Regions from separate parts of the Homo sapiens genome. Here all the other regions are linked to region 2. Evidence: fine-mapped expression QTL. A gene starts in region 2. Each other region holds a variant in brackets. All regions are shown on one strand. Distances are from middle to middle.

Region 1 (10,921 bases), 25 kb after region 2:
GATTTGTTTTTCATCATATTAAAAAAACCTCTTTGTATAAGGTAAGCAAGACTACAGTGATTCGCATTTTGCAGATGTGGAGGCTCAGAGAAGCCAAAAGCTTTCTCCAGTACACACAGGCAATACAAGGCATGGAAGAAACTGAACCTTAATCCTCTGAATTCAAATCTAGTTAAACACTAGCATTACCTTTCAATTATATCTCTACTGATTAGTCTCAAGTATATATTCCCTGACTTAGGAATATATTGCCAGTATTGACGGTAGCAGTGTGGCCAGGGCAGGAACCAGGGACAAGGGGGAGCCCTGCGCCTTCCGAGTTGGGGTGGGAGCACCCCAGGGTGTCGCTGCAAGCCACTGTTGCAGACCCAGGCATCCTTGTGCTCTTGGGGCCAAGGAGAAGGTGAGAGCCCCATCCTCCAGGCGCAGCTGCAGCCACCCAAACCCAGGCTGTAGATCTGGGCCACCTGCTCCATGGAACTGGCAGAAGCCCCACCCAGGAGGTTCGGGCTACAGCCACCCAAGTCATGACTGTGGATCATGGCCTCCCACTCCTCCATGCAAGTGTAGCCACCCAAACCACGGCTGCGGACCCAGGCACCTCTGCGCTCCTGGGGTCCTGGGAAGGTCCCCCTTCTCTTGCAGGTTTGAAAGTGCCTGCTCCTGCTGCCTGGCTTCTCCCTGCTGTCAATGTCCACTCCAATCTAGGAGCAAAGTAAGGGCTGAGACCCAGTCCTATTGTAGTCTGTCCAGGTATGCACATGCTACAAGCAGTGCTGATACACCAGCCCCTTGATGCCTTCTCCCTCTCCAGACTTTGGGCACCAAGAAGCATAGGAGGGAAGCCCAGGGGGCACAGAGGGCATCTCAGAGCTGGCATGCAGGCCCCCCTTCACACCTACAGCCTGGGGGCCATGAATGGCAACAGAAGCAGACAGATTCCTGGGCAGAAGGGGGCAGGTCCCTGGTAAGGTCCCACATTCAAGCCAGGGAGGGCCTGAAAACTGGGGGCTGGGGTACCAGTCCCTCAGACCAGAGCGGGAACTTACAGTGCCCAGCTAATTTTTGGATTTTTAGTAGAGACGGGGTTTTATCACATTGTCCAGGCCGGTCTTGAACTCCTAACCTCAGGTGATCTGCCTGCCTCGGCCTCCCAAAGTGCTGGGATTACAGACGTGAGCCACCATCCCCGGCCAGGGAGTCTCTTTTTTGTGCTTGTAAAGCATCTAGTGCCTACACCTGTTGTTAAAATTATCTAGTTATAAGTCTAGATTCTAAGAAATTTGATGATTATCTATCAATATTAATTTATATTTTAACCTTTAATGCATAGCCCTAAGACTTACCTAAACTCAGGTAGTGTATGTTTAATAGAAGACGATCAACTAGGATTTTGAGGTGATAATACAAGATCCATGTTTATAGATTATTTAGCACATACGCCTGGCTTCAATCATATGGCATGTGGAATGTAATAGGGAAGAGACAGAACTGGAAGGTAGGGTTTGGCAGAGTGTGGAGGTCTTTGAATGTCAGACATTGGGATTTTGAAAGCATATTTTTCACATAACGGAAAGTTATGAGATAATTTTTGAGTTGGAATTAATGCACAAAATTGCGTTGATGATATGTAGAATGCATTTAAGTAGAGAAATTATGGAAGTAGGAAGTATTATTTATTCAACTCACATTTACTGAGTACCTATCAGACATCAGAGCCTATTCTGCAATAATCTGGAGTAAAGGCCTAAAATAGAACTGTAATAATGGAATTAAAGGACAGAAGAGATGGGAGTAATTGTGAATAAAGAATCAATAGGACCCGACACCTGATTATATTTGTGCTATGATGGTAAAAGGAACATTAAAGGTAACAGATTCATAAGGTTGAGTTCGTCTGTTAGATGGCACTATCGACAGATATAGGACCAGCTAAAGCAAAAGCTTGTAGGGGCAATTATAAGAAGATGAGTTATAGATATTTTATCTTGAAAATGTGAGAGAACTTTTAAGTAGAAATGTCTATTTGCCATTAATGATGAAGAATTGGATTTCAGAAGAGATGACAAGTCTCTTCTTGGACACATCTGTGGACACAGATGTCTGTTATTTAAGTAGAGATTATAATTGAACTATGAGAATGCACTAGATAATTGAAAAAGAATTTAGGGAATATGAGAAGAGACTGGAGGATTACAATAGGTAGGTGAGAGAAAAATGGTATTAATAGTAAATAACTTTCATTTATTAAATATGTGACAAAATCTGCTAGGGCATTTTTATATTTCATCTCATTTTATCCTTTCATAGTTCTGTAAATTAGTCATTATTATTTCCACTTAACAGATGAGAAAACTAAAGTTTAATGACCATGTATTTTCTCTGTAGTCAGGTAGCTAAGCAGGTGGCAGAGTAAGAATTTGAACCTAGGTCTATCTTATTGTCTTATCCTGAAGAGTTCAGGAAACGAAGAGAGAATCAAGGCAATGATGTATTGCAGAAATCAAATGAGAGAATTACAGGAACAAAGAAACAATCACTGGGTGAAATAGGGAATTCGACTAGCTTTTTCTTTTTTTTTTATATACTTTAAGTTTTAGGGTACATGTGCACAACGTCATCATTTTTTATGGCTGCATAGTATTCCATGGTGTATATGTGCCACATTTTCTTAATCCAGTCTATCATTGTTGGACATTTGGCTTGGTTGCAAGTCTTTGCTATTGTGAATAGTGCTGCAGTAAACATACGTGTGCATGTGTCTTTACAGCAGCATGATTTTTCTATTATTATTTGTAACACTCAGCAAATAAAATTTAAATATATTATATAATATATCTTAATCTCCATTAAAAATTATATACATAGGTATGTATATATACCTATATAAAGAGATATATATTTAAAAATGGGTGTCCATCATAAAAAGTAAAACTTTGAAAATAAGAAAAAGAAACACACAGCATTAAGACCATAAAGAAGAAAGAATGAAATTAGTTAAAGATGATATAAAATTTCCAAATGAAAATAAAGACAAATTATAACACAAAGTTCAGCAAGTGCATAGATACAAATGGATATATTTAACATTGCATTATTATATGTAACAGTTGACAAAAAGTGTAATAAAAAGATGCCATTTGAAGTATCAACAAAAATAAAAAACTGTAAAAGATATGTTACATCTAAACATAGCACTTTATAAAACTGTATTGGACTATATCAAAAACATAAATAAATTGATCCATATGCTGTATGAATGAATAGAATGTCTCAGTTACATAAACATGCCAATCATCTACAAGTCAATCATTTCAACCCAATTTCAATCAAAATCTCATTTTGAGTAGAGAGGAGTGGGATATGTAAGAATGAGGGCCAAGAAGAAGACATTTCAAAGGAGGAGATTAAAATGGTGCCACTTGTCTATTTAGTAAAAGTTATTATGAAGCAATATTTGTAATAAAATAGCAGTGGGAGTAAACAGCCAATGGAAGCAAAGAAATAGACTAATATAGTATGGGATTTTAACATACGTGAGAGTAGGTATAGCAGACCACTGGGGAAAAGATGAACATAGCCAGCACAACAGGTCTGTGGAAAAAGGTGCATTGTTTAATCAATTGTATTGGAACTTTAGTTAAAATTTTTCAATTCCATATAAATATAAACCATAAATTTAAAGACTGATGAATAAAACTATTTAATAGTTCGTTTCATCAAATAGCATCATTAAAAAGAAAAACAACAAGATATACACTAGGAGTCTGTATTTGTAATAACGTTTATAACTGATTATTTTTATTTAGAATATACAAAAAGCTTCTACAAAGTAATAAGAAAAAGATAAACAACCAAATGAGGAGTACACACACACACACACACACACTCACACATACACACATACAACATTCAACTGCAAATCAAAGCAATAGCATATTGTTTACACAACAACTGAGTAGCAAAAATATGACCACCCAGAACATTAGAAAAGATGTGCAACAATAAAAATGCATTTATTGTTGGTGGTAGACAGATTCTGAAAAACAATTTGGCAGCATCTAGTGAAGTTGAAGATGCAAATATTCCAGAATACAAAACGTTGAAGGCTAATGAATGATTAAATTGTGCTCCATTTATACAAGACAGCAGGGATTTTCTTTTAAAGTTGCAGCTAGATACATTGATGTGAATGATTCTCAAAACATATGTTGAGTGAATAAGCAAATTATAAAGTAATGCCTAAAATACCATTCTATTTACATAGAGTAAAACAGAACTAAACAGTATATTGTTTTTGAGTGTGCACACATGTGCTAAATAGAATAATAAACACAAAATTCAGGTGAATGGTAATATGTAATATGGCAATAAAGAACTGGATTGGGGAGGAAAGTGTAGTGGTCTTCAAAGTTATTCATAATATTCTATCTCTTAAGTGGGGTTGTAGGTTCATGTGAACAAGAAGTGAAAAGGTGGAGACAGAAATACTGATAAAAGAGTAAACTATGCTTTTAGGAAAATAAGATCGGGAAGAAGAAAGGCAGTATGGCAGACTTAGAGCAACAATGAAAATGAGAAAGAGTATATACTTTAATATGTTTGAGCATATTCATAAGCTATATAAGCAGACTAAAAAGAGGAAAATTTGGAGGATACATAGGTAAGTGAGACAACTGAAGGAACAGTGTCTCTGCATGAGATGAGATAAATAGGTTCAAAGCGTAAGAGGAGGAATTTATCTTAAGTGGTAAGACTGGATAAAATCAGGGTCAAAAAGTAAACATCAGTGTGGCTACAAATTAGACTATCTTTGAGTCACTATCTGATTCTTTAGCTATTCGCCGATTCATTTAATTATTCGTTTATTTAGCTACATATTCCTTAATCGAATGCTTATTGAGGGACTGTCTTTATTTATTGTTATTGTTTTTTATTTTTATTTTTTAGAGACAGAATCTCACTCTATTGCTCCGGTTGAAGTGCAGTGGCTGCTTACAGGGGCGATCACGGTGCACTGCAGCCTCGAA[G/C]TCATGGCCTCAATCAGTCCCCCTGCCTCCACTCAAGGATCTGCCTTAAAAATCGCCTATTAAAAATCTAATCATTCAGAGTCGAAAGTCACCTCTGCTCTGACTCATTTTTCGCACCATATATGCCTGTGTCTCATAAGTTTTTTTTTTCTAATTTCAAATATGCTTTCAAATTCTGTTGCATTTCTATATCCACTGCTACTGTTCCACTAAACATTTAACACTTCGTGATTGTTTTATATCTCTTTTTGTGATAGAAGAAAAAAATCTTATGTGTTGTATATGTCTATTTCTTCTGCCTTTACCCACCTGGAGGTTAATATTAAGTCCAATTTCAGTTTTTAAAAAGTAGGAAAAAAAGAATTAGAAAAGTATCCTTCTGCTTCTATTTCCTGTCCTCTATATGAGGGCCCTTTTTTTTTTTTTCCTCAGGTCTGTCCAAGGTCTAGCTCATGTGTGCTCATCAATACAGCTTTCATGTAGCAGGAAAGGTTGCCCTTCAATCCTTTCCTGACTCCATACACTTGGGATATCTGCTGCTGGAACCCCTGAAACCCATGAAATCTCATGAGAGCCCCCTCATTACTGCCACTACTGCAAATGGCCCTGTGATCCCTGGATCCTTCTGAAGAAATTCTACTAAGCTGTGCTGGATGGCAGCTGGCTGAATCTTCTGCAATACACTTCAGGGTTGTGCTGTGTGATCACTAAACTGCTCCAAAGAGTAGAGAAAATTCTCCTGCCTTTGAACCACATTGCGTTAGTTTCATTCCTTTTGTTCCTTATCCTTTCCCTTTCTCAGCAGATTTTGTAATTTAAACTATTCTTTTACCCCTTGGACAGAATGGAAAGCCAAGTACTCTTTTCATCTGATTTCTAGCCTGACTGAAAAACCTAGCTTCCCATAGGTGTGTTGACCTCATGAAAGGGGAGTGTGTCAGCAAGTGTTTTCCTAATTAGTCTCATGGGGCATAGAGTTGCTTTTCCCTAAGCCCCCCAGGAAAGAGCCCTTTAGAAGAAAGCCTTTCTCCCACTTAGCAATTCCCTGTGATGCTTAGAGGTGTGGCTGTGGTTACAACCTTCCTACTTATTGGGCTGCAGAGCAATGAAGATGGAGACATTTGGAAAAGAGGAGGTGGCTCTGTTGGTTTCTGGAAGAGGTAGCTATGGACTGATGGGTGGACTTTCTACTTTGAGATATGAGTGAATGACTTTGTTTACTAGATATTGGGGGACAATTTTCACAGAACCATATTATTTCCTATTGGACTTTAAAGAAGGACTTGTGGAAATTTTGTTGAGATTGTGACAACACATGAGGTAGAGGAAAGGACCATAACTTAGGGATGGAGGGCTTTGGTGAGTGTTTGTCCTACAATTAGAGATTGCCGTAAGATAACAAACACCTGGACTAAATCTGTCAAATTGTGTCTGGCCCACTAGCTCTATGACTCTTTCACAACTCTACTATTTTCTGAGCTAAATTCTAATCTAGGTTTGTATTGTATTTAGTGGCATCAGGACAGGCTCTTAAGAATAAAGGAATGTCAGGACAACTAGTGGAGCTTCTGGTTGAGATTCTGGGGTATCCATTCCTACAGAAAATAGGAGAGTCCTATTAGGTATAACTTTGCTCCCAAGACTCTATATCAAATTGCCTTCCTATAGGCATCCTCTTTCCTTCTTAAAGACTCAAGTTCCTAAAGACCTACCTTTTTAACAAAAATTTCCAGATTTCAATTTTCTAATTCCAAACGGTACTGGACATAGAGCTTAATGCTTCTTTCCCTGTTTGTCTCCCTACTGCCTCTGTAAGCAGAACACAGAACAATTACACGGGTATCATTTTCTATCATACTAGGAAAGCCTGTTGGGGATAATACAGTCATAAGATATTGGGATGACAAAATAATTTTACAATCTCATATACAGCCATATTATCTGTTCTGCTTAAAGGCTCAGGTTTGATTTGGAACCCTACAGAGAGCCAGTATAAGGTTTTCAGACAGAGGATTGACAGCTTTGCATTTAGGAAAGATTATTTCAGTAGCTATGTGAAAGTGAGATGTAGTAAGACAAGTCTGGAAACAATAAGCCCAGATAAGAGTAATTAAGGTAAAAATTGCTAGAGTATAAATTATTTTTTATGAGCCTCCATTTCTTATGTAAAAGTTTTCTTAAAGAAAAACAAGGGAATTTTCACCTCATATTTTCCTGTTTCAACATAGACTTACTATTTTGCTGTATGTATAAAAAGCAAGAGAAAAAAAATTGTGGTTGCCATATGCCAAGCTGGGTTCTTACTTGTGTATAGCCTCCGGCATTACGGTTTCCAAATAATTTTATCTATTTATTGTATCCATTGGCAGTTCAGAGTTGTCTGACTTTTTTGGTAGATATCAGTAGCTTTCTCCATTTAGAGGTCCCATCTTCACCTCAGTACCAAGTGAAGAGTCAGAATTCTGCCATGCAAACAAACGTTTATTAGCAAACAGGCAAAAACATACTACTATTAGGCCTTTTCTTGGAAGCTCATGGAAGTCTCAACTCTTTTTCCTTATGCTTTCTGGTTAGTATAATAAATGAAGGTTTCTATCAAAGATAAAATGTAATAAAATTCTCTGCAGTAGAAAAGCTAACTTTCTAGTGAGATTAGGTGATAAATACCCTTTTAAGGAGGGAACACAGGAATGAATGGATCATGTGCCTATTGCACCTCTCCAAGCTCTATAGGCTGCCTAGCTCATCCTGTTTTATATCCCTGCAAGCCAGAGGTTAGGAATACTTTCAGCCAATCAACGTATCTTGATCACCTGGTTTTTCATTAAAAAAAATTTCTGTATGCCAGTGGTTCTTAACTGGCACAAATTTTCTTCTACTTCTTCCCTGCAGGGACATTTGGTGATTTCTAGGATGATTTTGGTAGTCATGACGAGGGAGGGGTCTATGCTACTGACACCTTATAGGTGAGACCAGGGGTGGCTGCTAGACATTCTATAATGCACGAACAGCCTTGCCTTCTCTCTGAGCAATGAATTGTCTGTTTCAAAATGTCAATAATGCTGAAATTGACAAAACCTGCTTTACATTATTTAATAAACTCTACAGTGTGGATACAGATAAGAATATTTGAAGCCCTTGTCAAAACTGCCTCTTGAGGTAGACTATTGATTAAAGTATTTCAAATGTTGCAAATTACACCTAGAATGTAATTTCTAGATTAGCTCACTTCAACTATTAACTAACTCCCTGTGATAGTTAATACTGAGTGTCAACTTGATTGGATTGAAGGATGCAAAGTATTGATCCTGGGTGTGTCTGTGAGGATGTTGCCAAAGGAGATTAACTTTTGAGTCAGCGTGCTGGGAAAGGCAGACTCACCCTTAATCTGGGTGGGCACCATCTAATCAGCTGCCAACGTGGCTAGAATATAAAGTAGGCAGAAAAACATGAGAAGACTAGACTAACCTGGGCTCCTAGCCTACATCTTTCTCCTTTGCTGGACCCTTCCTGCCCTCAAACATCAGACTCCAAGTTCTTCAGTTTTGGGACTCGAACTGGCTTTGCTTGCTCCTCAGCTTGCAGACAGCCTATTGTGGGACCTTGTAATAGTGTGAGTTAATATTTAATAAGCTTCCCTTTAACTATATATATATCTCCTATTAGTTCCGTCCCTCTAGAGAACCCTAATACACCCCCTTTAGAGTGTAGATTAGATTAATTTGTATACCCATATATGTCACATGAGATTAGCCTCTTGTGTCTTAAAGTAAATAATATTTGGTGGAATGTTTGGATTTTTTCTTTTCATTCAATTGTTAATAATGAGTCAGACTAAGGGAAGCTGCTAATCATACTTTAGTTTCAAACATGCGCACTTAAAAATGAGTTTATTCTTATCCACAGAGGGTATCATTTTGTCATGACCCATTCTTCTGTGTCCCCAACACTTCATCTCAAAAAAATGAAAATGTCTACTTACTTAAATTGTTCCTAATTTACTGTTATAATAAATGTTCTAGCTAATATTGTCATATATTTCTTTTTTAATATCTGAAATATTTCCCCTAGACTACATAGTGAAAGGCTTAAACTCTAAACAGTCTTAAACTCTCAATATAAATTGCCAAATTGCCATTCAGGGGAGTTTGTACCAATTTATATGTCTAACTAGCAATACTGTTAGCTTATCCAACAGAATAATTGACAACATAAGTTATTATAATTACTAAATTTGACAGGATAACTTTATATGTTGCAAAATGACTCACATAGTATATTTTATTTAACCAGCCTAATTTCAAGGCTGTTTAGTTGCTTGAAAAGAAGGTTTTTATTTGTTCTTTGCATGTACTTAGAATGTTGACTGTGTTTTATGAGCCAACAAGTGAAACCGCTGAAAATATGGATCCAGAGAATCAGACAATGGTGACTGAGTTTTATTTCTCTGATTTTCCTCAATCTAAGAATGGCAGCCTCTTATTCTTCATTCCTATGCTCTTTATTTATATATTCATTCTTGTTGGAAATTTCATGATTTTCTTTGCTGTCCAACCGGACCCCCATCTCCATAATCCTATGTACAGTTTTATCAGTGTCTTCTCCTTCCTGGAGATTTGGTACACCACCGTGACTATCCCCAAGATGCTCTCCAACCTTCTCAGTGAACAGAAAACCATCTCTTTCATAGGTTGCCTCCTGCAGATGTACTTCTTCCACTCACTCGGGGTCACAGAAGCCCTAGTCCTCACAGTGATGGCCATTGACAGGTGTGTAGCCATCTGCAACCCCCTTCGCTATGCAATCACTATGTCCCCTTGACTGTGCATCCAGCTCTCCACTGGCTCTTGCATTTTTGGCTTCCTCATGTTACTGCCAGAGATTGTGTGCATTTCCACTCTTCCATTCTGTGGCGCCAACCAAATTCATCAACTCTTTTGTGACTTTGAACCTGTGCTGCAGTTGGCCTGCACAGATACGTAAATAATTCTGGTTGAAGATGTGATCCGTGCTATTTCCATTCTGACCTCTGTCTCTGTCATCACCCTTTTCTATTTAAGAATCATCACGGTGATCCTGAGGATTCCCTCTGGTGAGAGCCGTCAGAAGGCTTTCTCCACATGTGCAGCCCACATTGCTATTTTCTTGCTGTTTTTTGGCAGTGTGTCACTCATGTATCTGCGCTTCTCTGTCACATTCCCACCATTACTGGACAAGGCCATTGCACTGATGTTTGCTGTCCTTGCCCTACTTTTCCTTTTTTTTTTTTTTTTTTTTTTTTTGAGACGGAGTCTCGCTCTGTCGCCCAGGCTGGAGTGCAGTGGCGGGATCTCGGCTCACTGCAAGCTCCGCCTCCCGGGTTCACGCCATTCTCCTGCCTCAGCCTCCCAAGTAGCTGGGACTACAGGCGCGCGCCACTACGCCCGGCTAATTTTTTGTATTTTTAGTAGAGACGGGGTTTCACCGTTTTAGCCGGGATGGTCTCGATCTCCTGACCTCGTGATCCGCCCGCCTCGGCCTCCCAAAGTGCTGGGATTACAGGCGTGAGCCACCGCGCCCGGCCCTTGCCCTACTTTTCAACCCAGTAATCTATAGTCTGAGGAACAAAGATATGAAAAACGCCACCAAGAAAATCCTCTGTTCTCAAAAGATGTTCAATGCCTCTGGGAGCTAATGGAGTTCACACACACCTCTTCAAAGAAATCTCATCATCTCCTTAAGTTTAAAATGCTAACAAATCAGTTTTTTAAAATTACCACGCACTTTTTCTTTTTTTAACGAAATTATTTAAAGACATTTTGGCATGTATTTTCAAAGTGAAGTATCTCTTTAATGATTTTTAATATGAATAACAACAGTACTAAGTTTTGTGTCTATCATTTTAATTTATA
Region 2 (10,921 bases):
AACAATGGTGCTTATCTCATTGAAGTATAAAAATTAAGTAAATATTGAATGCAAGACACTTGTAAAAATGATGAATAGTAAGTGCTAATAAGAGTTAGCTATTAATATTTTTACAGTAATAGTAATAGTAGTGAGGGCAACAGTAGTAATTTCAGTGCTACTTTTAAGTTAAAAAGAGAGAGAGAGAAATGAAGTTTTGGCATGGATTCAGCAGTCATCTCAATCCAATGTTTTCTTCTTTCCTTCTTTACCTCAGCCTCCCATGGATCAATACAACCATTCAAGCCTGGCTGAATTTGTGTTCCTTGGCTTTGCCAGTGTGGGCTATGTCAGGGGCTGGCTTTTTGTCCTGCTGCTATTGGCATACCTGTTCACCATCTGTGGTAACATGCTCATCTTCTCAGTCATCCGACTGGATGCAGCTCTGCACACACCTATGTACCACTTTGTCAGTGTTCTTTCCTTCTTGGAGTTGTGGTATACAGCTACCACTATCCCTAAGATGTTGTCTAATATTCTCAGTGAGAAGAAAACCATTTCTTTTGCAGGATGCCTCCTTCAGACCTACTTCTTCCACTCCTTGGGAGCGTCTGAATGCTACCTTCTTACAGCCATGGCCTATGATAGATACCTGGCCATTTGTCGGCCCCTCCACTACCCTATAATTATGACCACCACACTCTGTGCCAAGATGGCTGCTGCTTGTTGGACTTGTGGCTTCCTGTGTCCCATTTCTGAGGTCATCCTTGCCTCCCAGCTCCCATTTTGTGCTTACAATGAAATCCAACACATTTTCTGTGACTTTCCACCTTTGCTGAGCTTGGCCTGCAAGGACACATCTGCTAACATTCTGGTGGACTTTGCCATTAATGCTTTCATAATTCTTATCACTTTCTTCTTTATCATGATTTCTTATGCAAGGATCATTGGGGCTGTGCTGAAGATAAAAACAGCATCAGGAAGAAAGAAGGCCTTTTCTACCTGTGCCTCACATCTTGCTGTGGTCCTCATCTTCTTTGGGAGCATCATCTTCATGTATGTGCGGCTAAAGAAGAGCTATTCCCTGACCCTTGACCGAACACTTGCTATAGTTTACTCCGTACTAACACCAATGGTCAATCCAATTATCTACAGTCTTCGTAACAAGGAAATCATTAAAGCTATCAAGAGGACCATCTTCCAGAAGGGAGATAAAGCTAGTCTTGCTCATCTTTGACTTTCTTCCCATGTCCTTTCTCACCTCAATGTTCAATTCATAAAAGTTCCTTGAGTAATCTTCCCATCATCACACATGCTCTGAATTTCATTTCCTTTCACCTCTTCAAAGACTTCATTTCTTTATGATTTTCTCATTTTCTACATCTTTATTTCTATTTTTTACTCGATCACTTATGTCAGCATTTAAGAATATTTTAGTATCTACATACTTCTTTTTTTAAAAAAAAGCATGTATATTTCCTAGGTCCACACATTTCCATCCAGCTAGAGATCGATTTCTCTGTTCCTTTTTCCAATCAAACTTCTCAACACACCATATTTCCTCTTCTTTACTTCATATCCACTTCTCAACCCATTCCAATCTTATTTTGGCTCAGACCTTCCAACTAATATTTTGTGAAGGCCATTATTGACCTCAATGCTGCCAAATCCATGAGAAACTTCTTTTCCTTCCTCTCTCCTGAACTCTTGACACACATGACCAGTTTTTATGCCTCAATTCTCCTAACTTTTTACTCCTTAACTCTCCCTAACTCTCATGACATCATTACCTCCCAATTTTCTTATCTTTCTTGTGAGTCTTTCCCAGTCTTCGTTGTCCTGCCGTGCTATCTCCCTAGATACTCGGAGTTATTCTTATGGATTTAAATATGATCTCTATCACAAGGCCTCTTAAATTTTTATCTCCAAACCACAATTTTTCTCTGAGATTTAGATTTATATATTCAACTTCCTACTTATCAACACTGCCTGGATTGGACTTGTCAATAATTTAAAACTTAACATGTCAAAATTGATTTCTTAAAATTTCTAACCATGAAAGCTTGATGCTTTTGTTTCCTTGTGTTTCTTCTAGAAAATTTTAAATATTCTATTTTGCTTCCTTTTCTTACAACCATAATTCCAATCAATTATTAATGTATGCCAACAATCTTTTCACAAAATATATTCTTAAATCAATTTATTTCTTATACTCTTTAGTGTTTCTACCCTGGTGTAAATTACCAACATCTCTCAATTGGATTAATGTAATAATATTCTACCCATGCTCCTTTCTCCTACTCTCATTCTATTCTAATATATTTTCCACATAAAATATAAAGTAATGTATTTGAAATCTGAATTGTATATACCATTTTATAAAAACATGAGAAATTCTCAATTGCCCTTAAGATAAAATTCAAAGCCTCACCATACTTTATAAGGCTATAAACGGAATTCTTCCCTGCCTTCCTCTTCAACATAGATTCATACCTCTACTCCCTCAGCTCCCTCTTTCCTAGCTACATGATTACTCTTTCAGGTCTTCAAATACATTATGGATTTTTCTGGCTTCAGGATCTTCACTCCGTTTTTTCCCCAACATTTCATTTGGTTCACTCCTCCTAATTGTGTGATTTTCTGTTCAAATATCAATTTCCAGTGATGCTAGCTTTGAGAGGACTTCTGAACACTCAGTCTAATTTATGTCACTCATTTTTATCTCTGAAGTATGTTTTGCTTCTCTTCAAAATATGTATGGCAATTTATGTGTTTGTGGACATTTATGTATATATACATAGATATAGTTTGTCATTCTTTCCTACAAGTATCTATAAACTAGATTTGGTCTCAAATTATTTCAGATTTTTTATTTGTTGTGTGTCCAGAAACTAACACAGCACCTAAATAGGATGAGTATTCAATGCAATCGTAATGAATGAAACATGTGATGAATTTTACCCACACCTGGTCAATAATATATTTGGCCTTTAACAATGACATAATGATTCTAATCATTACTGAAACCCACTGTTCTATAGAATGCATCGGTCTTCCCTATTTGTACTCACCAGTTTTCTGCACATCCCACCTCAACTTGTCTCACATCTGCCTTTTGAATTTCCTTGGATAATACTGGTAACTAGTCCTTGCTTAGCTACTGTGCATCATACTAGGTTAATTTTCTGGATCTGTATTTTTTTTTTTCACTCACAAACTTTGGTGGGCATGTAAGCTATCCCTAGATAATATTCATTTTTAACATGATATGGTTATGCGTAAACATAAATTTTCATGTCATTTGGGAAAATGCATAAGTATAGGATTGCTAGGTCACACGATAAATGTATGTTTATAATTAGCTGTCTAACTGTTTTCCAAAGACTAGTGCTTTTTGGGTCCCTCCGCTGTGGTACAATGTGGGGCATGTGTAGTGAGAGTTCATTCAGCCTGGGCAGCTTTCCTGAGCTGTGGGAATGGGCTTGTGATGAACCCCAGGCTTCTGTTTCTCATTGCTGCATGTCTATGAGTAACAAATCTGCTTTTCTTGATTTGTTGTGTGTTTTATCTCAGCAGGTTCATGAACTAGGTAGAGAACCTTTGCATATATATGTATGTCCTTTTCTCCAAATCCTCCCTGCTGTCATCCGCACTATTTTATCATATATTTTTGTAAAATAAACACACAGTACATTGCTACTATTTTTGCTATATACAGTCATTTTCTGTAAACAGTGGCGGTAAAAGACATTGCAAGAGGGAGAGAGGTTAGTGAGTACTGAGGAAGTCAATGGAGCTGCAGTTTCAAGAAATGTGATACCATAAAAAAGACAGGCAGTTACGTGCTGAAGTCTGCTCATAGTTTTTGGGAAATGATTGACAACTTATTAGAAATTCTGTGGAACCAATAGCTTGGAATCAGATACAGTGGGAGTATTAGCACTATGCCAATCAGCAAATGTTATAAATCAGGAGCTTTTTAAAAATGGCAGGCTATCTCAAAGCTAAACAATGCAGGCACTAAAGTGGTAAGGACAGATTTAATCAGTAATATACAAATATACAAATATATATACACACACAAAAACACACACACATACACACACATAGACATAAATTATTTTGGTAGCCTTGAATTTTCTCAGGCAGGCACTTAAAGAGGTGCTAGGATAGACTATGGCCTTGAGTTCTTAGAAACTATGTTAGTGTTTGTTTAAGTCTTTTAATACATGTGGTGGGGGAGGGAAGATGGGGAGGGTGGATGAAATCATTTTTGCTGACAGTCTATAGATTTTGTAAGCCAAGGCTGAGGTTTAGTCAAAAAGAGAACTAGAGTTCAATGAAATTGAGAATCTTTGTTAGAGGAGTCAGTTGTTAAACATTTACCCCAACACATATAGAGACAGAATATCATTTGGAGGGGAGGGTAGCAGAATTGATGGATATATTTTAGGAATAGAGGATATTCTAGTTCACAGAAAAGAAGTAATTGAAATGAAACTGACAGATGTGGAAAATTTAATTTAAAAGGTAGTGGGTATTTAACTCTTAATTGCCTTATAGGGATTTAGAAAACCTGAATAAACCTCTAGTCATTAAGTAAATAAAATTATTACTTAAACTCTACGTATACTAGTCAAAAAACAAAATAATACTTTGACTCAAAAATTAAGTTATTAGTTAAATATCTATTTACCACAAACAAAATATTAAATACTGGCAACTCAGTTTGAAAAAAAAAAATCTTCCAGAAATAAATTAGGAGATAGAAAAATATAAACTTTGATGAAGAATATTGAAAGTGTGGGTGGGATGGAGAAAGTGACAAAAATTATTTAATTCTTCTCATAGTTCATATTATAGTTTGTAAGTACTTTTTTTTACATTATCACATTTGATTATTAATTTTATCTGAGGAAAGTAAATCTTCCTTATACTTTTTAAATTTTTTATCTGACAAATAATTATATATGTGATGTTTTGATACATGTATGCAGAGTAGAATGATCAAATTAGGCTAATTAACATATTTATCACCTCACATATAGTACTTATCATTTTTATTTTGTGGCAAGAGTATTCAAAATCCACCCTTCTGGCAATATTGCCAACCATGGCTCAGTGAGGTGCCTAATGTCTCATAAGTATTTGGAAGAATGGCTGGGATTGTATCCAAGATTCTGAAGCAGCACTCTTTACGGAGCAGATAACACTAGAGTAGAGAGGAGACTGCAGTGTGTAAGACAACATATAACGGCTATAAATATGAGCAACAGACAAGATTAGGAGTCGGTCTTGATGATATTTATGTCCCCAGTGTCTCCCTGTCCTCACCCTTTCAGGGTCAAAGAAGGTCAGTCAAATTTTATAAAGATCCTATCATAATTGAAAGTTGTATGCTTACTCCCAAGTCATGCAGTACAGGAACCCATTTGAACCTAGTTTTCACACCAGTTATTGTTATTTACTAAAGGAAGTAATTGCCTTGAGACATGTTCTATCTCAACTTGGACTGGTAGTTATTGTTGTAGTAACTAATAGGTAATGAAGGACTACTGGCTAATGAACTTGCTGTATGTCAGTTCCCTTCCTGAGAGAGCACTTTAGTGACCCCAGGAGGTCTGCTCAGAAGGCCCATGGGCTTCTGCCTCTATGAGGTCCCTATCAAGAATCCAGGTTTTATGGGAGAAGAATTTGTTTTATGGTTTAACTTATTCCCACAGGTTCCATCAAAGTGATAAACTTCAACCCCTCCAGGCCCCGGGAATGGCTGGGTATAATACTGCAAATGAGACATAGGAAGTATACAGGAAGTTCTCTTCAAACTTCGGACTCCGAGCAGTGGCTGGGCTTCCAGAGTCAAGCTCTAGCAGAGCACTCCCCACCAACAATCTCTAGGTAAGACTTTATCAAGCAGGCATTTTCATCTTCACATTCCTTCTTAGTCTGATCACTAAGAGACCTAGAGGATTCAGAAATATGGAGAGGTTTTTGAATAATCAGGGTCCATAAAACACATAATTGAAACACAGAAACTATTTTTAAAAACAGATATTCTGCTTTTCAAATGCTATAGTGAAGAGTCTGGCTTCAAAATTAGTAAATTGGCTATATTTTTAACTAACTGTGTAAACTGGAACAAGTCTTCTCCCCTTTCTGGATCCCAGTTTTTGTTGTTTGTTTGTTTGTTTCGTTTTTTAAATGAAGACGTTGAGTGTGATAATCTCTAAAATTGCATCTCCCTTCTTACCCCCAGATCTTTGGCCCTATGCCTAAACAATTATGAACTATGAATAATGCAGCTGTGGTATCTGAAGAAAAGAATGCAAGGCATATATTCTAAAAGCTTTCTAGAATTAGGGGAATAAACTATGATTTCAATGGACCTAAGTAAGATAAATGTAAATTTGTATATGTGGTAGGTTTTATGAGAGCCCTGATTCCAATATCAGGAATAGGAGTAGATGAGTAACTGATGAGCTAAAGAGCTGCACAAGTCATCTCAATTGCCCTCTTTTTCATTACCCACCATAACTCGGATATATCAGGCATTGTGCTAAGTACTCTAGGAGGTAGGACATGGTATGAAGTTTCCTCATTAATTTCAAAAAGCTCACAGAGAGTTGCCTTGGAGTGATAAGACATATGCCTGGAAAATAATTGCAGTGCATTACAGGATATAATTGGAGGGACAGTGAGAAAGTACTACTGAGAATTTAGAAGTGTGAAAGAACAGTATTTAACTTAGATGGTCAGGGAAAAAAATGACAGACTTGAGCTAGAAAATGATTCAAGTGTCTTCAGATTGACAAAAGATAAAGCATATTTTTAGTGAGGGTACACTGCAAACAAAGGAGTCTGGGCTAAATACAGAAACCCACTTGGCAAACATTGAAATTGCTATAATGGTGATGAAAAGAATGTTTGAACACATGACTCTGGACCAGAGCAATAGGGTTGTTTCACAGAGCAAAACAAAGAATAATGGTGAAAGCCAGGTTTCTGGTCATTGGAAAGGACAGTTGTAAACTAAAACATTTCAAAAATGGAGAGAACTGTCTTATGGGTCAGGAAGCTTCCAGTGCTGTAAATCCAGGCAGAGGGTTGATGCCCATTTGTGGCGATATGGATTCCTTTATGAGTGAGAAGATATGAGTTTTTGCTGGGCTGAATCAAAATTAGAAACATAAGTACAAATATGAAGTTTGATACACATGATTTATCCTTCTATTTTAGCCTTCCTTTTTGTGATATTTAAAGGTTTTTTCTTTTTATGAGCTGTTGGAAATATATAATACATTTCAGATATTCCAACAATCCAGTGAAATCCAAAATTATGGGGGCCACTGGAAAGTGATAGTTCCTAAAGCTTCTCTCAACACTAAATTAAGGTTTATCAGTACTAGCAGTTACAATCATAATTAGAAATAATAAAATAAATTTTTTAAAAAGGGAAAATCATCAGTATTTTTTGCCATCTTAAAGGGGGTGTGAAAAAGAGAAGGAAATGGTCCAAACCTCTGAGAACTGTGAACTTGGAAGATGAGGGAGTTGGGGGTGCTAGTTTTCCGTGGAAAATAATAATACTTGATCGGATCCTGATGACTTTGATTGCTTAGGCAGAGTATGGAGGGAGTGAACAACAGCAGGTCATTAATGAGTGATGATACAATGTATAGTGTGATAATAAGTCTTTGGAGTTATGTGGAAACTCTACCTTCTGAGAAAGGAGACGACAAAATACTGGCTTCTCATATTCAATCTTCTGACCAGCCATCCATGTAGATCTGAAAATTTAGTTAAGGGCTCACAGTCTAGACAACTCATCTGTGAGTGGGACTGGAGGCCAGAAAAGGAAAGAGGCAGCTCTAGAATAGAACCTTTTATTTATATTTAGAAGGGAAGGAATATAGAACATCTAGAAAACAAGGGTCTGAGAAGAAGTAGAAATTTAGGGATAATCCTTTATAGAAGGCAGGTATGCATTCAAGACTTGAAGAAAACAGAAGGCAGAATTGGGCAGTGGATAGACATGGATATGCGGTGAGAAAAACTAAGACAAAGAAATTTTGGATAATAAAGTAATTATTCTGAAGCAAAATCACCCATATAAAAGTTTGGCCCGGAAGTAGTTCTCTGGAATCTAAGTAGAGAAACATCCTATATTAAGTCTTGGATTGAGAAAGGCTTTTGTATATGGGATGGACATGCTCCCTAGGTTTAGAAAAATGCCAAGAAAAATCAGAGTAAACAAAGTTAGTTTGGATGAATTTCAGGATCCTGGAGAGGGAAGAAGTGATAAGAAGACCGGAGGGCAGAAGGAGAAGACTCGGTGTCTTTCATAACTCTCTGCCTTTGCACAGGCAGTTCCATTTGCTTCAAATACTTTTTATTTCATTTTTCCATCTAAAAAATTCTGACAGTTTCTTCACTTCAAATAAAAATTATATCTTCTGGCAAAGCATGGTGACTTATGCCTGTAATCCCAGCACTTTTAGAGGCCAAAGCAGGTGGATCACTTGAGCCCAGGAGTTCAAGACCAGCCTGGGCAATATGGCTAAACCCCATCTCTACCAAAAACACAAAAATTAGCCAGGCGTGGTGGTGCACGTTTGTAGTCCCAGCTACTTGTGGGGTGGAGGTGGGAGGATTGCTTGAGCCCAGGAGGTCAAGGCTACAGTGAGCAGAGATCCTGCCACTGCACTCCAGGCTGGGTGATAGAGTGAGATGCTGTCTCCAATAATAATAATAATAATAAATTATGTGTTCTATGAAATTTTCCTGATTTATCTCCATATCCAGCCCATGGCTTGTAACTCCTACTGCATATGCAAATTAGCAGTTATCTTAATAGATTTGCATATTAATTACATAAATATTTATTGAGTTGTAACTATATTTCAGACATGGCTCTAGGCACTTGACATACACCAGTAAACAAAATAGAAAAGAAAAAAATCTTTGCCCTTAAGGAACTTATAATCAAAGAGGAGAGAACCAATAAACAATAGGAATAAGAAATAAGTACATTTTACAGGTTAGAACATGACAAGTCCTCTGGAAAAAAAGTTAAAAATTAAGTAGAGAAAGGCAATAGCAGTACAGAATATGGATGTAAGGATGGAGGCACACTGCAGTTATATAGGGTGGCCCAGGTAGTTGAGCTGGTGAAATTTGAGCAAAGATGAAATAAATGAAAGAGCTATCCAAATGGTGAAAGAGATTCTAGAACAAGGAAAGAGCTACAGCAAAGGTTTTAAATGATATGTCACTGAACACATTTGATCGATGGAAACGCAGAACCTAATTTAGAATTTAACAGGATCACTCTGGTGTGTTGAGATGAGGCTACAAGTGAACAAATGCAAGTAGGGAGATCTGTTAGGAGTCAATTACAGTAAGAGGGGAGAGATAAAAGTGACTTGGACCGAGGTGGTCAAACATAGTCAGTTCCTGGATATATGAGAGAAAGATAGAAACAAGGATGACTGCAGGAGTTTAGCTTGTCAGTTGAAAGATTGCAATTGCCATCATTTGTGATGGGGAAGACTAGGGGTAGAGACCCCAGGAGTTCAGTTTGAGATGGCTCTTCGACTCCCAAGAGGAGATGTGAGTAGGCAGTGAAATATATGAGTCTGGAGTAGCAGAGAAAAATATCGCCTGAGATATGGATTTAGATGTCTTCAACACATTTATAGTGTTTAAAGCTCTGGTATTGGATGGTATAGAGCAGAGGAGTTGAGTTTATATAGAAGAGAAAAAAAAAAGATTAAACACTGACCATGGGCACTGTGACATTAAAAGGATGGGGCATGGAGGAGAAACTAAAGTTGGAGAATGAGAAGGAATGACTAATAAGATAGAAAGTAACCAAAAGTATAGTACCCCGAGAATCAAGTCAAGGAAGTGTGTGAACAGGCTGGATAAATCAATACTGTCAAGAAACAGATAGTCCAAGTAAGCTGAGGAATGAGAAATGACCATTGGATCCAGGAAATCTTAGATAATTAATGTCTATGAGAAAGGAGGTTTTAATGGAGTGGTGGTAGTATAAATCTAATTAGAGTGGGTTTAAGAAGAAACTTAAAGAGAGGCATTAAAGGCAATGCGTATAGCCGACTCTTGGAAGAGTTTTCTTTTAGGGACATAGAAAGAAATAGAGCAGTGGCTGTGGGATGAGTAAAGAGAAAGAATTTAAGGCTCTTGCTTTTTTGTTTGTTTAGTAGATGAGAATAATAGCATGTTTTTACATTGATAGAGTATTCCATGAAAGAGCTGTATAATAGTTAGTTGTTTCTCTATACTCTGTATTACAATATTAGTTTGTTAACATCAGGTGCCACATTTTATTTGTTTAGTCCCTGTTCTAAGTATAATGCCCAGAGTACTGAAAATAATCAATTATTGTTACATTGACCTCAACACAGTAGAGCATGTATATTTAATATCTACAGAAGCAATAAACCAGAAAAGAGCATTTGAAGTTGATAGAGGGGGAAATGGCAGGAAGAACTGATGAAGTGGCCACAGTCTGAAGTTGAAATGCAGAAAGATAGATTTGCCTCCTGTCTTTCTTTGGCTTTTTTATTTACTCTAACCTTCTTATTTTTGACTGGAGCTCTCACCAGTGTCCAAAAGAGGTCTAAATTCTGACCTACATGCCCCTGAAAGATGCTAGCAGACCTGAGTTCTCATAAAGGAATAGGAGGGAGCAGAAGGGAAAACAATTGATTCTTTGGTAGCCAGAAAGTTGAAGAAGAAAACAAATTAAAATGAGAAATTAGAAAATAATATTCAAATTATATATATTTGGTCCAGTACGGTATCAATATATTATCAGTATAAATGATGATTTTTACCTTAGATGAACAATATGTATAAATGTTAATATATACCTTGGATTAGAAATACCTAAATTTCTAAAATCTATATAGATTCTATT
Region 3 (10,921 bases), 31 kb before region 2:
GTTGCCTTGGTTTATGCCCTTATTACCCCTTTCCTCAATCCTATCATCTATAGCCTTCGCAACAAGGAGGTGAAGAAGGCTTTAAGGAGAGTCATGGCTGGGCGCGGTGGCTCACGCCTGTAATCCCAGCACTCTGGGAGGCCGAGGCGGGTGGATCACGAGGTCAGGAGATCGAGACCACGGTGAAACCCCATCTCTACTAAAAATACAAAAAAAATTAGCCAGGCTCGGTGGCGGGTGCCTGTAGTCCCAGCTACTCGGGAGGCTGAGGCAGGAGAATGGCGTGAACCCGGGAGGCGGAGCTTGCAGTGAGTCGAGATCGCACCACTGCACTCCAGCCTGGGCGACAGAGCAAGACTCCGTCTTAAAAAAAAAAAAAAAAAAAAAAAAAAAAAAAAAAGGCAGTCATTGACAGGATCAGAATTATTTTAAGGGAAGCTCAATGATCTAATTTGTCATAGCCCAGCTTGTTGGTAATTGTGAGAATCAGCTGGTTGGCTTGTCAATCATGTGGTCAGAGTCAAAGAAAATACCAGTAAAGAAATAAAAACGATCAGTAGTCAAACATGCTGCACACACCCATGCCTGAATTGGTGAAAGCTGGAAGATGTAAAGAGAAAGGGGTTATGGTCTCTGATTTCCCCATTCTAATGGGAAAGAAATGCAACAAAGGGAGGAAAAACAGGGATGCAAGAACAAGTGGTTAAGCTGCATTTATGACTTAGAGAGACAGTGCAATACAGAAAGAAAGAAGATAAATTAAAGCTAGGAGTGGCAGATTTAGTCAAGATAAGATTCTTGGAGAAAGGTTAAGAAGGTGGAAAACTAGGTTGGCAAAAAGGAGTCTAAAATGTTAACTTGTATAAAGTTGCAGATGTAGATCAGCGCACCATGAGCAGAATGCTTATCTATTTGTGGCATCCAGGGATTCTGGGTTATTATGTGACCAAATGTAGTTTGATGGAGAAAAAACCTGCAGTTCTGATCACGCTTCTTTTCTCTCCAGCTCCTCTATTGCTTCCTCTGCTGAGCAGAGTAATCTCCCATTCCTTGATGGTGTCTGAACTGGGGGCCAAGTACCTGCTAGAGTATGGTCAGATAAATTAGTGAGAAAATAGGACCAGATCTTGGAAGAGACTAAGTATTGCCTAATCTTGAATACTTTCCATTTTCCTCATTCCTACAGATCTTACTGCTTTATTTTATGTATGTCTGTACTATGCCAGAAATAGTTACAGCTGCCTTCATGTTTTTAAAAATTTAATCTTTATAATATCCCTCTGAAGAAGGAAGAACATCCCAATATTTACGTAATAAAATTATAAAGATTATTGAACTTGCAGTAAAGACAGACAGATTCAACCCTAAATCCACTTCAGCTGACTGAGTTACCCTCCTCAGCCTCATTCTCTCTGTCTGTAAAATGAAAGGCTGGCAATGAATGAGTGCTCACATTCCTCTCAGCTTAGGGAGTTTTGATTCTATGCTTACAGTACTTTTTTTTTTTTTTTTTTTTTTGAGATGACGTCTTGCTCTTGTCCCCCAGGCTGGAGTGCAATGGCGCGATCTCAGCTCACTGCAACCACTGCCTCCCGAGTTCAAGCCATTCTCCTGCCTCAGCCTCCCAAGTAGCTGGGATTACAGGCACCTATAGCACTTCTTAAGGAAAGCAGGACCTGAACTAGGTCCAGATGTGTAAGATCTGAATTTGCAGAGCAGAGATGGAAAGGTGTTGGTACAAATTCAGGTGTTGCCATTTTTGCCTCTATGATTTTGGGCAAAAAACATAAGCTCTCTCTAATGCCAGATTTGTTTTCCTTTAAAAAAAAAACTACATCAAAGTGTTCTAAAGTTAAATAACACATACTAAGTATTTCATAAGCAAGTTAGTCTCAGCATACCAGAATCAGGACAGTATAGTGCTTACACCACGGTCTTTGAAGGCTCTCTGCCTGTGTTCAAAAGTCAATTCTATCATTTATTTGCTGTGTGATCATATGCAATACACTTAAATTCCCTCCACCTCAGTTCCCTTACATGCAAAATGGGGACAATAAAAGAACGTTAAGCATGTAAATATTAATCATTGTTACTTCAGAGTTTTCCACATAAATGTCTTCAGTGGGGATTTATTTCTTTGATAATGCTTAGTTTTACAGCTATCTCACATTGTTATTACAATAGACTTGGTAACTCTCCAAATGAGGCATCTTCTTTTGACCTAAGGGTCCAAATTTATCTTGTCATAAACTGAGTAGTCCCTGCTTTCAAGAAGTCTATGCTGTTTCCCAAATACATGGTGCAAAACTCTATTCTGCTGACAGTCTGAGTCTACTGCTTTTGGGCTCCTTTTCTTTCTCTCCTTCTGCACCTCACTTCACTCAGACTACTCTTTTTGCAGGAACTATTATGGGCCCAACAGAAACTCTTTTTTCCCTGTGGTGGCAGCACTAGAAGATGGCTTAAATTGAAATGGCTTAGATCACATTAATTAATAGGTAATTATAGTAATAATAATTACTAAAACTGTTATAGCAATTCTTGATAATTACTAATATCTGTGGGGTGCATACTGTGCAGTGAACATGGGGGACTTACCATCCTGTAGTGAAGACATAAGCAGTCATCTAACAACTCAAAGTGGCTTATATCTCACTATTAATTTGTACTACAATGCATGGTATCCACTCATATTTGAACAAATGAATGAATGAACAAACTCTTAAGAGTCAAATGGGTGTGATAGAGATTGAGTTCCCCTCTTGAAACTCCACCAGAAGGTATTTTTTTAAGATCCATTTATAGCTGCAAACTCCCCTTGCCTTTCATTCTGTACTCTATTCTATATTCTTTTTTTTCTCTTGAGACCTCCTTGGGTATTTCCTTTAGAACATAAAGTTCAGGTCATCTTTAGCGCAGAGCTTCTCAACAGATATAAATAACAGATGTGCTGAGTTACTGAGTCCTTGCCCCTAACACACACCCTATGAATGGTCAGATAGGACCTAAGGGAATTGAAGTCCTTGGACTGGTTGCCTCAAGCAGTAAGTGGCCTTTCTGTTCACCTCAGTGTGTCCTACAGATACCATCACTTTTATAAGCGCTATGATATGAAAATAAAAGTTTGAGAAGTAGTGCCTTAGTGTGACATATTGGGGTAAGTGCCCAAGGTGAGGTCCAACTTTTGGCCACTTCTCCCATGGTGACAATTGGATATTGACTCTAGCAACATAGACAGTAAGAAGCAGTCACGTCTGAAAGGCAGCATAATCAGACCATTCACTTGGTACTAGCATCAAGGCTGACATTCTGTCATACAGGACATTCAAACTCAAGTACATCAGAGAACAAAATGAAATACTATCAATGTATCCAGTGACAACAGATATAAACCACAGTTGTACTGGGCAAACAAGGGCATGTGACCTTGATGTATCACTTCATTTACATAGTTGTTTTAAAAGTTTATTTGCTTCAATAAATAATATCTCTAAAAGGTTCAAAAATTCATCTTATGTGTGAAGTTGAAATTTTTTCTTACATGTTTAAAAAACTTATATTTTAAAAAATAATCAGGTGATTTGAGGATCTGTCTCCTCCCACTCTATATAATAAATATCTTAAGGGAAGCAACAGTGTTATACGCATCCCATTTTCTCCAGTTCCTAGAATAAAGTCTGGGACATAAAAGCTGTTTCAAAAATGTATTAAATAAATAGATAAATGAATTATTGTGAATTTCCCTATTTCTCACATTATGTTAGTTGCATTTCATATCATTTTTTTCCTAACATTTACAGCACATTTTAAAAATAATGTATTACATATAAATATAGGACATTAAATGTTTAGGTAAATAAAAATTTAAATTACTTATAATCCCATTACTTCAAAAATTATTTCTCTATTTATTTCTAAATTTTAGTAAGCATATGCTGTTTTTCCAAATAGTAGCAATGATACTATGAAAATTTGAACATGCTGAATACTACTTTTATCACTTAAGCTTTTAACAAATAATTTTAGATCTCACCTTTCTCCTCAAATAATGAATTGCTTGATGAAGATATCAGTGTAACCACAGAACCAGTTCAATCTGGTTTAACTTTGTCAATAACAAAATACAACAAAATGATGACTTGTTTTTTAGTTGCAATGGACCCTCAGGTTGTATGTAACCCAAGTGTGCCCAGATGAACCAAGTGTGCCAGATTTGTGACCCTGGAGCCAACCAGAACAAAAAAGTAAACCACATGCAGAACCTAAGTATTCAGACCAAAGGATGGTGATCAAATTAAAAAGGAAAGGAGACCTGTTTTGTTGCAGCACAATCCTAAAAGTCAAGGACCTGGCATAATCTCTTCTCAGGAACCAATCAGATAACGCTTTGTTGCATTTTCCTATCTCCCTCTTAATTGCTCTCTGCCTATAAAACCTGTCCCCAGACCTCAGTTAGGGGAGACAGATTTGAACATTGCCTCCTGCCTCATTGCTGGTCAACCTTGAAATAAGGCTTCTTCTTTCTTAAAAACTGGTGTCACAGTATTGGCTTCTAAGCTCATGGGACAGTGAACCCATTGCACAGTAATACCAGAACTTGTCATTTTCCCTCACTCTATTTCTGATACAGAATAAATGCCAAGTAAGCACTCTTTACTGACAAGTGGTGACATAAAAGAGAAGAAACAATGTTCTTGACTAGGCAAGAACTAAACTTGGAAGCCTTGATTGTTTAGTACGCATATCTACACTAACTGATTCTAGGTAATGTTTACAATTCTTATGCTCAGGTATTTGTCATGTTGATAGCCTTCTGAGGGATCATGCATGGGCATTGTAATTTATTCAGTCAATGCCAAGCCATACAGGTATACAGTTAGACAATACAAATGATGCAGAAAGTCTGTCTCAGAGTCTGGCTCACAAGAGGAAAAGAGGAACGTAGGAACACCAATGTGATGTGATATAGGGAGGAATAAAAATGAGTATTAAAGTGGCCACTTTGAGTACAGCACAATTATTCATTTGAAGAATTGGGATAGATGGCTAATCTATATATCCATGAAATAAAAATGAAAACAAAAGATCTGTTGGTGCTTGAGACTGTGGGAGATGCAGTAATTTAGTGAAGGATAGTTTCAACTATCCATCTTTGTGAAAGGTTAGGTATTTCAGAGTAAGTGGGACATAAGCTAAATGCTGATTAAGGTTGAATGAGACCCTCATATTGTCCAAAAATTTGAGAGACTCTTTCAATCCCAAAGTCACATTAGTACTCTCAGAAACAAATATCTTCCTTTCCTTTGGCTCAGAAACTTTCCGTCTCCTACAGGAAAGCTTTTCCAATTTGAACTCAGAACACTTAGTATTTTTCTTCCGTTTAATATGATTTACTTGTTAATCTTTTTATGGTTACCTCCGTATCTTAAATTTAATATAGCAACTGCTTTCTTTCCACCTGATTCTGAAAAATAAAAGTACATTTGGGGCTATGAATGATTCAAATACCTTACTTCTGATAGATAAATGCTGTAATTCCATTATTCATCTGGACTCCATATCCATCTAAGTACATGCCCACAGAGAACACACAGCTGAGATAAGAGTTCAGATGTCAAGATTAGGATGTTGATGAACATATTGAGGATATGGATATAAGTAAAAGTAATAATGAAAAAGTAGATTAGTCTCATGAAGATGCCTGGGTAATAATAATGGTAGTGATAATGTAAGTAATGGTAATAATACTGGTGATGGAGACTTAGACAAGTGTATTAGGTATTCAACATCAATCATTTGGAACAATGGCTAAAGATAGCTGACATGGCAAAGGGAGGGACAGTGGTGAGAGTAACAAAGGTAGAGATGGTAAGCGCAAAAGTGATAGTGGTGCCTGTGCTGTGATAATATGGTGATGTGGTGAGGTTAGTAGGGATGGATGAGAAATCTCCTTGCAAAAAAAGCTTTTAAGATGAAACTCACCTCTGGGGTGCTAAAGATGTGATTCTTCATGTATTCAAGTTGGATTGTCTCTTCTCATGAAAAGCTATGACGGGGAGGCCAAGGCGGGTGGATCACGAGGTCAGGAGAGCGAGACCATCTTGGCTAAAATGGTGAAACCCTGTCTCTACTAAAAAATACAAAAAATTAGCTGGGTGTGGTGGCACATGCCTGTTGTCCCAGCTACTTGGGAGGCTGAGGCAGGAGAATCGCTTGAACCTGGAAGGCAGAGGTTGCAGTGAGCCGAGATCGCTCCACTGCACTCCAGCCTGGGTGACAGAGCAAGACTCCGTTTCAAAAAAAAAAAAAAAAAAAAAAAAAAGTGCTATGAGGGACTTGCAGAACTTCTAGAGTCCCAGAAGAGGCAGTGTCCCTGGGATTGGATTCTAGAGCCAGTGAGGGTTGCAGAAAAGCCATTTGAAAGAGAGTAGGGCTGCTTTACTTCTCTGTGTCCAACTTCCTACCCCAGAGGAGCACTTACAAAAAACTTTACACACTTAGCAACTCCAGAGAACATATAGCAAGGAGCCCCTGGGAGGTCAGCATTTCCAGGAACATGAAAT[A/G]TAAGTAGGGGAGTGTCTTGGGGTAGAAAAGATGCAGAGGAGGATGTTGTAAATTCTAATGTCATCAAAACCATCAGGTAATGGGCAGGGGTGGTACAGAAAAGATTAGAGTATCTAAAAAAGAGAACTAGGTAAAGGCTTTGATCTTTCCCAGATAAGGACTATTAGAATATGGAAAGAAAACTCCAGGGACATTGATATAGACCACCCAACTCCATATCCACCCTAGAAACATTTTTCAATGGCTTTAGAGATCCACAGACTACCAGGGTGGTGAGGGGCTTTATACAACATTTATATAGAGAAGGGGAAGTTGAAGTAAAGAAAGGAGAAATGGTTAAGCCCAATGTTCATTTTGAGTTAGTGGCAAAACAAGTTTACAAAGTCAATTTAGAAATAGAATGCTTTTTCTGTTGCGCTACAGCCCTTCTAGACCAACAATATAGGGGCCTTAGCTTACCAATTCCTCTCTCTCCTCATTCCCTTTGAGAATTCCTGATGCATGTCTCCCTTAGGAATCCTTCTTTAAAATGTACTTTGTCTGTTCATTGATTCTTCATGTAACCCTGCAGTTCTGACTTTGACAGATGGGACATTTCTTTAGGGACTAGATGGATACTTTTCTGTCTCTCCTGTTTTCTGGCAAGGTGGGTGGGAAAAAAACCCCGGCATTTAACAATTTTGTTTTAAGGAGCCAACCCACTCTCTCTCTCCCCACCGCCACCCCCACCTTTTTCTCTTCTTCACATACACACACAGACAGACCACACACACACACACACACACACACACACCAGTATGTGCAGCAACATACTGACTAACACCAAGAAACAGACTTTTTTTCATTTTGTTCTATGTACTTTTGTGATGATGGGAGGTCATGAAAAGTGGTGGGAAGGAGTGCATGGATTGGTGAGAAGTGAATGAGCAAAACAAAAGAAAGTCTCATGGAAGTGTAGAAGTGTATTGTGATCTCTTCTCATGCCTTAGACTTTAGAATGCTAACTGGGCACCCAGTTGCTACTTCTCTGAAGGTTCTCTGAAGACCAAGCGTGGAACTGTAGGATCCTACTAGGAGATTCCCTGTCTGAGGATAACATAGCCATAGCTTATTGAAGATACAAAAAGAAAACTTATTTTTGAAATAAAAACTCTCTGGACAACCTTTTAAAATTTCTTTTTAGTGATAGCGTAAGTTTTGGGTTTCCTGTTTTTGAAAAATGATGTTGAAATGCTTTCTTTCCAAATGCAGGGATGACTTTGTATTTATTTTAGCTTATTTTAAGAGAAAAGATATGTGTAGAGAACAATGTGTGTGGAGTAGCATACAGCAGCATTATCTCCCTCTCAATTTAGTAAATTTGACTAAGATCACAGAATGTTCTGGGGTCCCCACCTATTAAATGTGGATAAGTTGTCCAATTTGAGGTTTTTCTATGGCAATATACCCTCAGGTAAATTTTCTCTGAGCATCCAGCTCAGATACGGACTATATTCTCTTTTCTGACATTTGGTGGATCCTAAATAAAGGCAAACCAATTTTAATATTGTCAAACCTTGAAAATTAATGTTGTGGAGAAAAACAACAACAGCAAAATAGTAGAAATCAAATCCTTGATTTTTTTTTTCTTTCCTAGGTAAAAGCAACTTTTCCTTTGTGGTATGGGGTAGATAGGTTCAACTGTTGGGGTAAGCCAAGACAACTTTTGAAGACTTGCTTTGAGCAAACACCATTTGCAGCTAGGTGAATTCCACCAGGAAGTCACTGAGAATCATTGAACTTCTGATTTAAACGGTGCTTAAGAAGTCATCTGGTCTAAACCCCTCTGTCTTTACAAAAACATAAAACTGAAATCAAGAGGTAGGGAATAACTTAATTAATTAAGGTTACATGGCAACTTAGAAACAGACTGAGAATGGGATAGCACCAACGTTTTCTAACGCTTTCCAGTATACCTTTTGGCTTCTTTTTTTTTTCCATTTTATCTGAAGTAGAAAGCCTCTGGCACCAAGCACCATGCAACACATGTAGGCGGGAAAGCAGATACAATGAGTCATAGACTTCTTCTAGGGCCCTATCTTCCCATAGAGTAACTCATATCTGTAGACAACATGGCTGGCTGTGGAGGTTCACAAGTCTTGTCCAGCCACCCTTTCTTCTCTCAGACTCCTGCAGTCTCAATTTTCCTTTCCAGAAGTAAGTTTGGGTTTCATACTACACAAACCATCCCATGATGTCGCTTAATTTTGTGATCCTTGATTATACAAGGATCCCTGACTACACAAACATACGATTTATAGTTGGATGTCCTTTGTCTATTTTCTCATTAAATCTCCCACAGAAGGTAAATAGATAAATGTCTTTTCAACATTAGTTAGTAGGTAGATTCTAAACTTAATCCAAAAGATTTAACTTTCATTTAAAAACCAAGAGGATCTAATCATGTTGACTGAGTTTTCACCCTCCTTACCATCCCTGACAACTGTGGGTTTTTAGAACATATATGATCCCACAAGTCAGCCTACATATGACCTTTCACTTGAATGACCTTCTACTTAAACGTAGGCTAGAGAGAGAAAATCCTTTTAAACACGATTTATATGAGCCTGCAGAGTAATTATTGGGAAGGTATTTTTTGTCTATGTTTATTAAGGTCTAAACGTAATGCCAATATTTTATGGGTACGTTCGTCATTTCTTTGGCTAACGTGGTGAACAAATCATACAGTCTTTTTAAGCTTTCTCCAAACATTGACTAGGTGTGAGATAAATGGGGATCAAGTCACCTGGAATCTTCTCAGGTAAAAACTTTAGCAATAGAAAAAGATTTTTATTTTAATGAGAAGGTCTATTTCAGATCAACTAAATTAGATACTTTGAAAGTGGGGTCTAGTAATTGGTGTTTTAATAACTTCAGGATGTTATGCATGCAAGTTAAAGTCTGAGAACCAGCCGTCTACTCCAATTGGTGGGACTGGAAGGGGGAACTGGGCATATGTAGCACAGTTCTTTCCTGTGCTCTTCTCCCAGGGAGCCAGCCTGCCCGGTTTGTGTGTTCTGCTCTGCTTTCTGCCATGCAGTGGAAGGAGGTCTGTGGCTTTCCATGCTGCACAGTAATCACGTAAAAGCACTGTAAGGAAAATTAACACGCCCACTATCAGAGTAAGACATTTGAAATCTCTCCCCTTAGGAATAAAAACACCAGGCAAATAAATCATAAGTATATATATAAATTATTTGTAGAATAATTAACAAGGTCCACCTACTGGAGGCACATGGAATAAAGATTGATTTCAAGCACAGTGGAATTAAACAAATGCTTGGCCATAAAACAAGTGTCAATACAGTTAATAGAATTAATAATATTAATATAATATAGACCTCTGCTTCTACTAGTGATATAAATAAATTAGAAATAAATAAATGATAAATTTCACATGTCCATATGTTTGATATTTAAAGAAAATACTTCCATACAACTTACTCTCAGAAGTATCATAGGAAAAGTAGAAAACATCTATATCTGAACAATAACAAAAAGTATAATTTCAAAATATTTGGGAAAAAGTGCTTTTTAGAAGTTTATAGCCTTAAATTTAATATTATTTAAAAAGTATAAAATTAATTAACTAAGCATTCAAGTTTAAAAATTAGAAAAATAATGTTAGGGCAAAAAAAGAAAGTGTAAGAAAAAATCTGGGAGCAGAAATTAATACAATAAAAATAAATATATGACAAAAATGATATACTAATAAAAATGTTGGTTCCTAAAAATAAAAATAAACTCCTGACAAGACTAATAAAAAATAAAGGAGAGAGAGGGGCAAAAATAAGAAAGATTAAGAATGAACAATTGGCAGAATTACAGATGCATCAAAGTTTAAAGTTATAATAACATATTACTAATAATATATGCCAGTTAATTAAAATTTTAAATTGGCTGGATTCATTTCTAAAAAATTATAAATTAGAAATATCAACATCAGAATTAATATAAAATCTAAATGATATTAAATTAGAAGTTAAAAAATCACTAGAAAGAAAACATCAGTGGCAGCTTGCTTAATAAGTGAGTTCTATCTAATATTGACGAAAAACATAGTTCCTATTTTTACATTCTTCTGAGAATTAAAACACTGGCAATGCAGCTCAACAGTGCATTTTACAAAGATAGCCTAACAGTGATTCCAAAATAAATAAAACTAGTAATGTGAAAAAATAGATGATAATATCATTCATTAACATATATGCAAAAGTCTTCCTCCAAATATTCCTAAGCTAAATTCAATAATCCCAGTTAAGAACAAAACAAGATTAATTACCAATATTACTTTTATTTAATATTGTACAGAAAAAAT

The links. PIP is the estimated chance that this variant, and not a neighbour inherited with it, causes the effect.
Region 1: its variant is fine-mapped to the expression of OR6N1 in whole blood (TOPMed, PIP above 0.99).
Region 3: its variant is fine-mapped to the expression of OR6N1 in whole blood (INTERVAL, PIP above 0.99). The same link has a PIP of 0.9 or more in neutrophils.

Annotation. Positions count from the first base shown.
Region 1 is chr1:158,741,929-158,752,849 of GRCh38, reverse strand. It overlaps the pseudogene OR6K5P. Among named protein-coding and RNA genes, the nearest start is that of OR6K6, 7.3 kb to the left of the region's middle. The variant G/C (reference allele first, on the strand shown) is at 5,031.
Region 2 is chr1:158,766,977-158,777,897 of GRCh38, reverse strand. OR6N1 (olfactory receptor family 6 subfamily N member 1) reads left to right here and starts at 5,703. Exons shown (of 2, transcript NM_001005185.2): 1 at 5,703-5,877. It overlaps OR6N2 (olfactory receptor family 6 subfamily N member 2), which reads left to right. Exons shown (of 2, transcript NM_001005278.2): 2 at 257-3,676. The coding sequence starts at 263. The coding sequence ends at 1,216.
Region 3 is chr1:158,797,601-158,808,521 of GRCh38, reverse strand. It overlaps a transcript of OR6N1 not described here and the pseudogene OR10AA1P. Among named protein-coding and RNA genes, the nearest start is that of OR6N2, 22 kb to the right of the region's middle. The variant A/G (reference allele first, on the strand shown) is at 6,564.